Linked DNA regions of Homo sapiens: region 2 is linked to region 1. The links come from fine-mapping of genetic effects on gene expression. A gene starts in region 1. The other region holds a variant in brackets. All regions are shown on one strand. Distances are between the middles of the regions. Region 1 holds the start of MEI1 (meiotic double-stranded break formation protein 1). Region 2 overlaps CCDC134 (coiled-coil domain containing 134).

Region 1 (5,373 bases):
TGGTCCAAATCTCACCCATCTTCTTAAACCTAATTTGAATGCTTCCTCCTCTAAGAAACCTTTCCTAATTCCTCTCCTTACCCTGAACAGCACTTGACTACAAACATGTTCATTCTTCTAAGTTCTAACATGTTCTCTTATTTCTCCCCGCTGCACTGTCTTATTCATCTCTGATTTACTGTCCAAGAAAAGCAGCCTCAGAATTTCCATCCTTAATGAAAATTCAGAGGTTATTAGCTAGTTTACGAGTTCCCAGAGCACAGTGTGGGAATTCCTAAGGGTGCCTAAAACACTTCCCAGAGGTCCACAAGAACAAAAATATTTTCATATAATATTAAAATGTTCTTAGTCTTCCTCATTTTTTTTTAAATTTTTTCCATGTTGGCCAGGCTGGTCTTGAACTTCTGGCCTCGTGATCCAACCACCTCGGCCTCCCAAAGTGCTGGGATTACAGGTGTGAGCCACCGGACCCGGCCCAGTCTTTCTCATTCTTATTCTCCCACAAGTGTACAGTGGAGTTTTTGAGACTATATGACATGATAGCACAACAGACTGAATGCAGAAATAGATAAAAATCCAGCTGTTTGGCCGGGTGTGGTGGCTCACGTCTTTAATCCCAACACTTTGGGAGGCTGAGGCAGGCAGATCACCTGAGGTTGGGAGTTCAACACCAACCTGACCAACATGGAGAAACCCCGTCTATACTAAAAATACAAAATTAGCTGGGCGTAGTGACGCATGCATGTAATCCCAGCTACTCGGAAGGCTGAGGCAGGAGAATCGCTTGAACCCGGGAGGCGGAGGTTGCGGTGAGCTGAGATTGCGCCATTGCACTCCAGCCTGGGCAACAAGAGTGAAACTCCATCTCAAAAAAAAAAAAAAAAAGAAAGAAAGAAATCAAAATATTTGAGAACGCAGCCAGGCACGGTGGCTCACAGATGCAATCCCAACACTTTGGACTTTGGGAGGTCAAGGCAGGAGAATTGCTTGAGACTAGGAGTTCAAGACCAGCCTGGGCAACACAGGGAGACCCCCGGGACCGTTTCTACAAAAAAAAAAAAAAAAAAAAAAAAAATTGAGAACTGCTGATCTAGCCAATCCACCCACTCACGAATTCCCCTCCCATGAATTGGAGAGAAACTTGACCTCCCAAAGTCTTCTTGGATGCCTCCATGGACAAGAAAACTCACTGCAGGTCGGGCACCGTGGCTCACGCCTATAATCCCAGCACTATGGGAAGCCGAGGCGGGTGGATCACCTGAGGTCAAGAGTTCGAGACCAGCCTGGCCAACATGATGAAACTCCGTCTCTACTAAAAATAGAGAAATTAGCCGAGCGTGGTGGCGGGAGCCTGTAATCCCAGCTACTGGGTAGGTTGAGGCAGGAGAATCGCTTGAACCCAGGAAACAGAGGTTGCAGTGAGCGGAGATGGCGCCATTGCACTCCGGCCTGGGTGTCAGAGCGAGACTCCGTCTCGAAACAAACAAAACCACTTCATTGCAAACGCGGTAGGCAATGAGGACCCAGGCAGCCCGCTTTGGCCAGCTCTGCCCAAGGAACAGTCTTCCCGTTCACCCCCACTTCTGCCCGGCTGTAACCTGTCACTCCTGTCCCCTCGGAGCCCAGACTGCCCCTCCTCCGATTCACACCCCGACAGCTGAAGGGAATGAGGAGCGGCCGCCGCATGCGCCCCTGGCCCGCAGGTGAGTGGAGGCTGAAATGGCGGGAGGCTGAAATGGCGGGAGCCTGAGCTAAGGCCGAATCCCCGGGAAATGGAGGCAGGGGCAGCAAAGGGAAGGAGCCAGAAGGCGGAAGGCGGGAAGGTGTGTCCCTGAGACTGGGTGAGGTCCCGGGGGATCCGGATTTCCGTCCTTTCAGGCGCAGAGCCAGTGGACCGGGCTCCACGGAGGCCCGCAGGCCGGCCTGGGGCTGAGGGGCCCGAGAGGCCGCTGCGGCCGGGTCCGGGACGGGCTGACAGGGAGGAGAGTGAACACAGCGCGGGGGCCCGGTTTCGCGTCGGGTTCACCGGAGCGGGTCTGGCAAGGGCCTGGCCGCGTTTGCTGAGGGAAATGGCCAAACCCAGGTCTTCTGAAGAAAAGGTTCCGCCCGCACCGACACGCCGGGGTCCGGCAGCAGCTCCAGCGCGCAGGCCAGGCACAGGCGGGGGGTCACGGGCAGCAGCCAGCGCGGGTCGTGCCGGTAATGGGCCCTCTCGAATAGAAGCGCCGCCTCTTCCTCTCTCCTGGGCCCGGGAGTGCCCGCCGTCGCCGCCTGCCTCACAGCCATCTCCTCGCTTGCCCTCAGCTGAGGCGGCACTCTTTCCCGCGCAGACTGCACGCATGCGCACTTGGAGGACGGACCTGCGTCGGTGTGGAATGCGCCTGCGCGGACCCAGGGCGCTGCAGTCTCAGACGAGCAGCAGCCACTGAGGGCAAGTGGTGGACGCAAGTGCTCTGGATCGTGTCTAGCTAAGCCAAAAGCGGTTTGTGCTTAGAACCCTGCAGGAATGTCTTTACCACATCCAAAGTTGAAAAGCAATTATAAAGTAGGGGGCATTTGCCTTGAAAAAGGAAGGAAAGGAAGCTATTTCTACTGTTTTTTAAAAATGAAGGCCGGGCATGGTGGCTCACGCCTGTAATCCCAGCACTTTGGGAAGCCGAGGTGGGCGGATCACGAGATCTGGAGATCAAGACCATCTTACCCAACATGGTGAAACCCCGTCTCTACTAAAATACAAAAAATTAGCTGGGTGTGGTGGCAAGTGCCTGTAATCCCAGCTACTTGGGAGGCTTGAGGCAGGGGAATCACTTGAACCTGGGAGGCGGAGGTTGCAGTGAGCTGAGATTGTGCCACTGCACTCCAGCCTGGCGACAGAGCAAGACTCTATCTCAAAAAAAAAAAAAAAAAGGAAAATAAGCGATCCCAAGGATTCGCATCTAAAAGCAATTAGAGGCTGGGTGAGTTGGCTCATGCCTGTAATCACAGCACTTTGGGAGGGAGGCTGAGGCAGGAGAATCACTTGAACCTGGGAGGTGGAGGTTGCAGTGAGCCAAGATCGCACCACTGCACTCCAGCCTGGGTGACAGAGGAAGACTCCATCTTAAAAATAAATAAATAAATCAGAAGCTTAAGACCAAAAAATAAAAGTAAAAAAACAAAACAAAACACCAAAGACAGAGAGAAAGAAGTTCAAGACCAGCCTGAGCAACAGGGCGAAACCCCTCCTCTACTAAAAATACAAAAATTAGCTGGGTGTGGTGGCTCATGACTGTAATCCCAGCTACTCGGGAGGCTGAGGCAGCAGAATCGCTTGAACCCAGGAGGCGGAGGTTACAGTGAGCGGAGATCAAGCCACTGAACTCCAGCTTGGGCCACAGACCTACACTCCATCTCAAAAAAAAAAAAAAAAGCGTCCCATGCAGAGGACCACCCCTCCCCATAAGCAGCTGAGGCTTTTGGAGTGTCCTGCCTCAATCAGGATTAGCTTGGAGACAGAGCAGGATAGAACCTCAGTGGACTCCACTGTGAGGAGCTGGGGGGCAGGTGTTTCGGAGAGGACACTGGGTTGACCCACATTCCCTAAACCACAACCACAGAGTGGAAGGGGCTTCTACCCCACCCACAAAGTATCCCAAACCCCGAAAGGGGGCACTTGGAAAATGTGCCAGAGAAATCAGAACACCACAGGGCCCAAATGACCAATTTATTAGAGGCTTTGCAGGGATCAGGACACTCTCAAAGCTTTTCTGATATGTCCTGAGGACTCTGGGCCTGAGTCTACTTTTTAAAGCCATTCTGGAAGAGAAAAAAATTCAGATGCTTCATAATACTAAACTTTTTGGAGGCTCGTGTATTCTGTGGAGCCCCATTTGGGTTCCCAGGTGCCTCCTGGCCCTGGGGACTCTCTGTCTTAGGAAGGGTGGCCCCAGTACAGCAGTGACCTTGCAGCTGAAGATCCCTCTGTGAAGCAGTGTGATCTCCGATGCTGTCCTCCCCTGCACGAGGATCACCCACTTTGGGAGGCAGAGTAGAATCAGGTTCCCTCAGGCTCAGGTTAGGGGCCAAGTGCTTGCGCTTGGCGAGCTGTGGGGACCAGGACATCTTGGCCAGAAGGGTCAGGCCCAGCTTTGCCACCGCAGAGTGGAGCCTCCCTTTGAAGCTGACAGGTTCTGCAGAATGGCAGGAAGGCTGCTGCCCAGCCCCTCTGCACCCTGTAGATTCCAGGCTTCCTCTTCTCCAGTATGTGAGCTGCTGGCATTTGAGTCTGGGGAGCTTAGAGGCCTCCCAGGATGTACATTCCTTCCTCCAGTGGGCGTGGTCTGCCCTAGAGAATGAAGTCCTCACTCTGCTGGGAGCCCTCTCTGCCAGCTGGGAGACCCTTGACCTGATCATTTTCCTGCCCCTACTGTTCTCACTGGGAGGCTCTCCGACCCTTTGTGGGCCACACCAGCTCCTGGACTCCGCTGCCGGCCTGGGGGTCCTGGGAGCTGGGAGCTTGGTCCTAGCAAGCGCTTCCTGGATCTCCTGTGGTTCTCTGGCGCCCCCTGGTGGCCTGACTCTCCTGGCCTTTTCAGGCTGGATGGAAATGCTTAATGGGCTCTGACATGTGCGGTCTGTTCCTCTCCAGAGCTCTGGCTTGTATAGGAAGTTTCGAGCTTTTTCTGTCTGGGCGCTGAACCCTCTGGAACCTCTCTGGGGACTTAAGGCCTGGTGGGGAGCCTTGGGCCTCACAATACCTTTCCTGCTGGGCTTGGAGCTCCTGGCCTGTGTTCAGTCCAGAGAGCCTCGCCCCAGCAAGGGTCAATGAGCAAGATCCTAAGAAGTTAAACAGGAAATAGGACTCCAGGATCCGCCGGGGAAGACCCCACTTCAGGTGTGCAATCCTCCTCCGCATGAGGGACTCCAGGAGCAGTCGTTTGCTCTTCTTGAGGCCTGTCCCCTTGGGCAGGACAGTGAGGGCGGTGGGAGGACCCGCTAGAATGATGGCAGCTTCCGGGGCTGGGCCACACGGGAGACAGGAGCAGGCAGAGGGCATGCCCAAGGGAGCTGTCAGAGACGGAGGGTTTTGGGACTGCCGAGTCAGGCTGGGGGCCTTCTCTGGATCCACCCCTTTGTCCCTTTGTCGTCTTCTCCAGGATTCAGGTTGGGCCTGCTGGGAGGCTGGACTGATCCCCACTCTATGATCCCTGGCAGGGGTTGTGCCCTGGCTGGCCAGATGCTCTCCCTCCCCACCCACCAGCAGGAAGACTTCACCCCAGTGGGGGACAGGATTCATCTCAGGACAGGGGGCAGAGATGAAACCATTCACAGCCACTGCCTGTTCCTGTTCCCGGGTCCCACATCCATAGCCAGTGAAGGCTGGAGGCCATGGTA
Region 2 (5,373 bases), 120 kb before region 1:
CCAGCAGCGTCTGACACACCGATCGCTCCCTCCCTACTTCTAACGCTTTCCTCATGTGGCCTCTGGGAAACTCTTGGGTCGGCCACCATCATGCTGACTGCTCCTTCTGCGGGTTCTCGCTGCTTCCTCCTCAGTCCTTCAACCTCTATCTCCAGCCCCATCCCAGGCCTCAGTCCTCAGACTGCTTCTCTACCTGCCCGATGCCCCAGATGACTGTGTCCTGTCTCACGGCTTTTGGTGCCTTCTACATAGGCATGGCTCTCACATTTATAAGTCCAGCTTCTCCTTCCTCCCTGAAGTCTCGAGTCAAATATCCAGCTACCTCCTTGACATCTTTACTCCGATGTTCACCAGGTGCAGAAAAAAACTCTTACTACCCTCCCTCTCCAAGCATTTGAAAAAATGAGTCCCATTCTTCCAGACACTCAGGCCAAAAGTCTTCTAGTCATGCTTAACGCTCCTCTCTCTCTCACCACATATGCTTCCTCAGCAAATCCCACTGGCTCTACTTCCAAAAGAGAAGCAGAACCTGACCATTTCTCAGCAGCTCCACTGTCATCGTCTGGTTCAAGCCACTATCAACTGCCACACAGATGAGCACAGCAGCCTCCACACCTGTGTCCCTGCTTCTGGTCCCCGACCATGCTCCACACAGCAGCCAGATGACCTCTTTAAAGTGGTAAGTCTGCGCCTGTAATCCTAGCTACTCAGGAGGCTGAGGCAGGAGAATCGCTTGAATCTGGGAGGCGGAGGTTGTGGTGAGCCAAGATCGCACCATTGCACTCCAGCCTGGGCAACAAGAGCAAAAATCTGTCTTAAAAATATATATATAAATAACGGCTGGGAGCGGTGGCTCACACCTGTAATCCCAGCACTTTGGGAGGCCGAGGTGGGCGGATCACGAGGTCAGAAGATCGAGACGATCCTGGCTAATATGGTGAAACCCCGTCTATATTAAAAATACAAAAAAATTAGCCGGGCGTGGTGGTGGGTGCCTGTAGTCCCAGCTACTGAGGAGGCTGAGGCAGGAGAATGGCGTGAACCTGGGAGGCAGAGCTTGCAGTGAGCCAAGATCGCGCCACTGCACTCCAGCCTGCGTGGACAGAGTGAGACTCCGTCTCAAAAAAAAAAAATTATATATATATATATATATATATATATATATATATAAAGTGGTAAGTCACAGCCTGCTCTCCAGGTCCCTCAGGGTAGGTGCCAAAGCCCTTGTGAAGACCTCTGAGGGTCTCAGGATCAGGCCTACAACTCTGACCCCATCTCCTGACACTCCCCAGCCCCAAAATATGCTTCCAACTCACAGCCTTTGCACTTGCTGCTCCTTCAGCCTGGAATGTTCTTCCTTGGGATACACAGATGACTCCTCATCTCCTTCAGATAATTCAGTAAGACAGTACCCAGGCCATGTGAAATAGCAACTGCACCCCCACCTTACCCCGGGCATTCCTTAACCACATTCCCCTGCCTTTTTTCTCCACAGCCCTTGTCACCACCTACCACATTATATATTTTTAAGTTGACTGCCTGTCTTCCCCAACTAGAATGCCACTCCCAGGAGAACAGGGCTAGCCTGCTTCCCCAAGGGGCAGGATGCAATAGATACTCACTTGATGCTGAATGAATGAATGTGGGATGCATCTGAGCCTTTGCATAAGTTCGTCCCTCTGCCCTGAAGGCCCTGCCTCAGCTGGTCCACCCAGCAAATAACTCATCCCACCTCCCTGCCAAGGCTGGGTCAGGCTCGCCTCAGAGAATTATGCTTCTTACCAGTATAACAGTTACACCGGATTAGAACTATTTCCCTGCTGCCTTCCCCATCAGACTGTGAGCATCTGAGGAGCTGCGACAGGGCCAGCCCCCTGGACAGGGACAGTGGCTGGCACACAGCCTGATACGAGTTGACTCTAGTGATGGGTACATAAGAAGCAGGAGAACTCAGAACTCTCACCAGCATGGAGGGAGTATGTGAGGGGAGCCAAGCAAATCTGGGGCTCCTGCGAGAGACAAGTCCACGCAGGATATCAAAAAGTGAGGAAAATCTCAGAACTGTCCCCATCCAGCATGTAAGGAAAGTATGTTGCTGCTGTGGTTATGTCCAAGTAGAATACGTTATGATAAAGCTGGACTCAACTTATCCTGGCACCCATTCTCTCTGTGGCCTATGCTGTCACCCTCCTCCTGCGTTTAAGTGAGGCATCTATGACCTGCATAGCAAGAAGAACTGGCATCACAGCAATAAAGCATCTCCATGGGTAACCCCTTGCTGGGAAAGGCAATCTGCCATGGCCTTGAGTGTCCACACATGTTTTCTTGCTGCATAAACCAAGAACGGAAGGCCGTGGCTGTTCTTGATCTGGGCCATTTATCAGGGTAATGATTGCAGCATGCAACCTTGGGGTATGCGTCATTTCAGCTGGGCATGCAGGGGTGGCAGCTACCCCACTGAGGAAACAGCATCCCCGACTCTGCCACATAAAGCAAAGCCACTGGCTCAACAGGACCCTCGATTCACAGGTTCCCCCAAGTACTCAGGCCTAGCCCACTGTAATTCAGC[T/G]AATATAAAAGCTAATAGTGTTGTACAGAAAAGAGTCAACACAGCTGGCCTGACTCCTAACCTTTGAAAGGCCTGCTTCCAAGGTTAGCCCTTAGCAGACATCTGGGAACTTGCATTTCAGGAGGGTCCCCACCACCTTAACTGCTAACTGTGGTTCGCTGTGCCTAAACTGTTTGTGCAAACAATATGGTTTCTGCTGAATACATACTTTGCTCCGGGGAGTTTGCCATTTTGATATGTTAGGCAAAAAGTACCCACATGACTAGCTCCCAGTAAAAACCCAGGCACTAGGTCCCTCATTAAGTTTCCTGGTAGAAAACATTTTAAACACGTTGTTACAACTAATTGCGGGAGGAATGAAGCACATCCTGTTTGACTCTACTTGGAGGGGACTCTGGAAGCTGAGCCTATTTCCCCTGGACTTTGCCTGATGCACCTTTTCCCTTTGCTGATTTTGCTTTGTATCTTTTCTCTGTAGTAAATCGTGGCCATGAATATGACCATATGCTGAGTCCTGTGAATCCTCCTATTGAACCATCAAGCCTGGGAGTGGTTCTGGGAACCTGACACAGGTGTCCATGGGCAGCAACAGTCAGCCAGCCCCAGTAACAATGCTGGCTGATTAACTGCCATAAAGGCCAGTCAGACAATGGCCTGAATTAAAAGGTATCACCCTTGCTTGGATGACACTCCTTCCTAACAGCCATGCATGTTATATTCTTACTGACTATTGTCAGTGTCCTGGTCATCTGGAGATTACAAACTGGCAGATCAAAGATACCTACCCCTCTCTTTTTATTTATTTATTTATTTATTTATTTATTTATTTATTTAAGACAGAGTCTTGCTCTGTTGCCCAGGCTGGAGTGCAGTGGTGCAATCTCACCTCACTGCAACCTCTGCCTCCCGGGTTCAAGCGATTCTCCTGCCTCAGCCTCCCGAGTAGCTGGGACTACAGGCATGCGTCACCTCGCCCGGCTAATTTTTGTATTTTTAGTAGAGACAGGGTTTCACCATGTTGGCCAGGATGGTCTCAAATTTCTGACCTCAGGCAATCCGCCTGCCTCGGTCCCTAAGTGCTGGGATTACAGGTGTGAGCCACCATGCCTGGCGATACCTACCCCTCACCCCTCTTTAGGGCCACAGACTATGGAAACAAATTGTGGTGACAAACTAGACAGCCTGGCTCACTCGTTTAGATGCCCATCATAAAGCTCAATCTCTGAAAAGACCAAATGGAGTCAAACTGCTGATCAAGCCTACTTCATCCAGATCACTGCCACTGCCACCTAAACATATCATTCTACTTGGCATGGTAACATACCCACTACCAAGGAGTGGCACAAAACAGAGGACTGTATATTTCTGGTTCAACTACCTGAGTCTCTGGTTGGAATGGTACAGCCTGAGATTGTTAGGATTGTGACCACTTGGCTGAGTATCCTGCTTGCTGATTTCCCTGCAGTGGCCCATGTGGGTAAAGAGAAGAGATATAACAGGTCTCTATACATCTGTAAAAATGCCCTGGTCCCATTCATACCTGACATTTCTGAATGAAAGATCTAAGTGATAGTAGGCAACAACTGGAGAAAAAGTGAAACTATAGATGCTGGCATAGGACATATGCTTTTTGTTTTGTTTTGTTTTTGTGAGACAGTCTCACTCAGTCGCCAGGCTGGAGTGCAGTGGTGCGATCTTGGCTCACTGCAGTCTCCGCCTCCTGGGTTCAAGCAATTCTCCTGCCTCAGCCTCCTGAGTAGCCAGGACTCCAGGCATGCGCCACCACACCCGGATAATTTTTGTATTTTTAGTAGAGACGGGGTTTCACCATGTTGGCCAGGATAGTCTTGATTTTCCTGACCTCATGATCCGCCCACCTCGGTCTCCCAAGGACACATGGATTTTATAGCAATAATCCTGCCACCTGGGGAGGATATACCTTAGATCCCAGAAAGTGCAGGGAACAATTAATGTTCTCTTTATCCCTTAGATCCATCACTGCCACCTGGCAAAACAATCCTAGGGTCTGCCCAAGCCCAGTGGCAGCTGCAGCTGTCAATATGGCCAACTGTTGGGTGTCTCATTTCCATCCACATGATAGGAAAACTCACATGGACACGTCAGTACTGAGCTATTCTGCTGTGTCTAATGCCATCAAAGGTAGTTCTCAACAGTGACCTTGTGCAGACACACCAGCCAGCACAATTTTGTTTCAACCTGACAGATACAAATTCATCTGCTTTTCCTGATGTCTGAGTAGCCTTGGATTATACCATGTAGGCAACTGAGGCTGAAGCTCCACAGTGACACTGCCCTCAGGCTCAACTAAACATTGTTCTGGTGACTCAAATCAAGCGTAACATGTGGGAGAGAATGGGTCATGGAATGTCTCCTTATGGGGGCATGAGGGTTGCTTGGGTCCATCTATTGCCCCCTGTACTTATTGGCAGTAACATCAAAGATTGGCAGGTCAATCTAAACTCTCTTATGTGGGTGGTCGTGGATAACAGATTGGTCTTAGACAATATCCTGATTATCCAAAATGAGACTTACTGGTCCTCCAGGACCTTCACAGCTGGTTGAGTCCAGGACCCTGTTCAATATTGCAGGTTAGGGGCCAGACACAGTGACTCACACCTATAATCCCAACACTTTGGGAGGCTGAGACAGGAAGATGGCTTGAGCCCAGGAGTTTGAGATCACCCTAGGCAGCACAGCAAGAACCTGTCTCTGAAAAAAATAATAAATTAATTAGCCAGGAATGGTGTCGCACAGGCCTGTCGTCCCAGCTACTCAGGAGGCTG

Evidence for each region. PIP is the estimated chance that this variant, and not a neighbour inherited with it, causes the effect. A credible set is the group of variants that fine-mapping cannot tell apart.
Region 2: its variant is the best candidate, but not a certain one, in a credible set for the expression of MEI1 in whole blood (TOPMed, PIP 0.86).

The regions. Positions count from the first base shown.
Region 1 is chr22:41,696,452-41,701,824 of GRCh38, reverse strand. MEI1 (meiotic double-stranded break formation protein 1) reads right to left here and starts at 2,322. Exons shown (of 31, transcript NM_152513.4): 1 at 2,113-2,322. The coding sequence starts at 2,286. It also overlaps the pseudogene C22orf46P. RefSeq lists a silencer at 2,250-2,349 and enhancers at 4,563-4,942, 4,953-5,032.
Region 2 is chr22:41,815,761-41,821,133 of GRCh38, reverse strand. All of the region lies in intron 6 of CCDC134 (coiled-coil domain containing 134), which reads right to left. Among named protein-coding and RNA genes, the nearest start is that of SREBF2, 15 kb to the left of the region's middle. The variant T/G (reference allele first, on the strand shown) is at 2,570.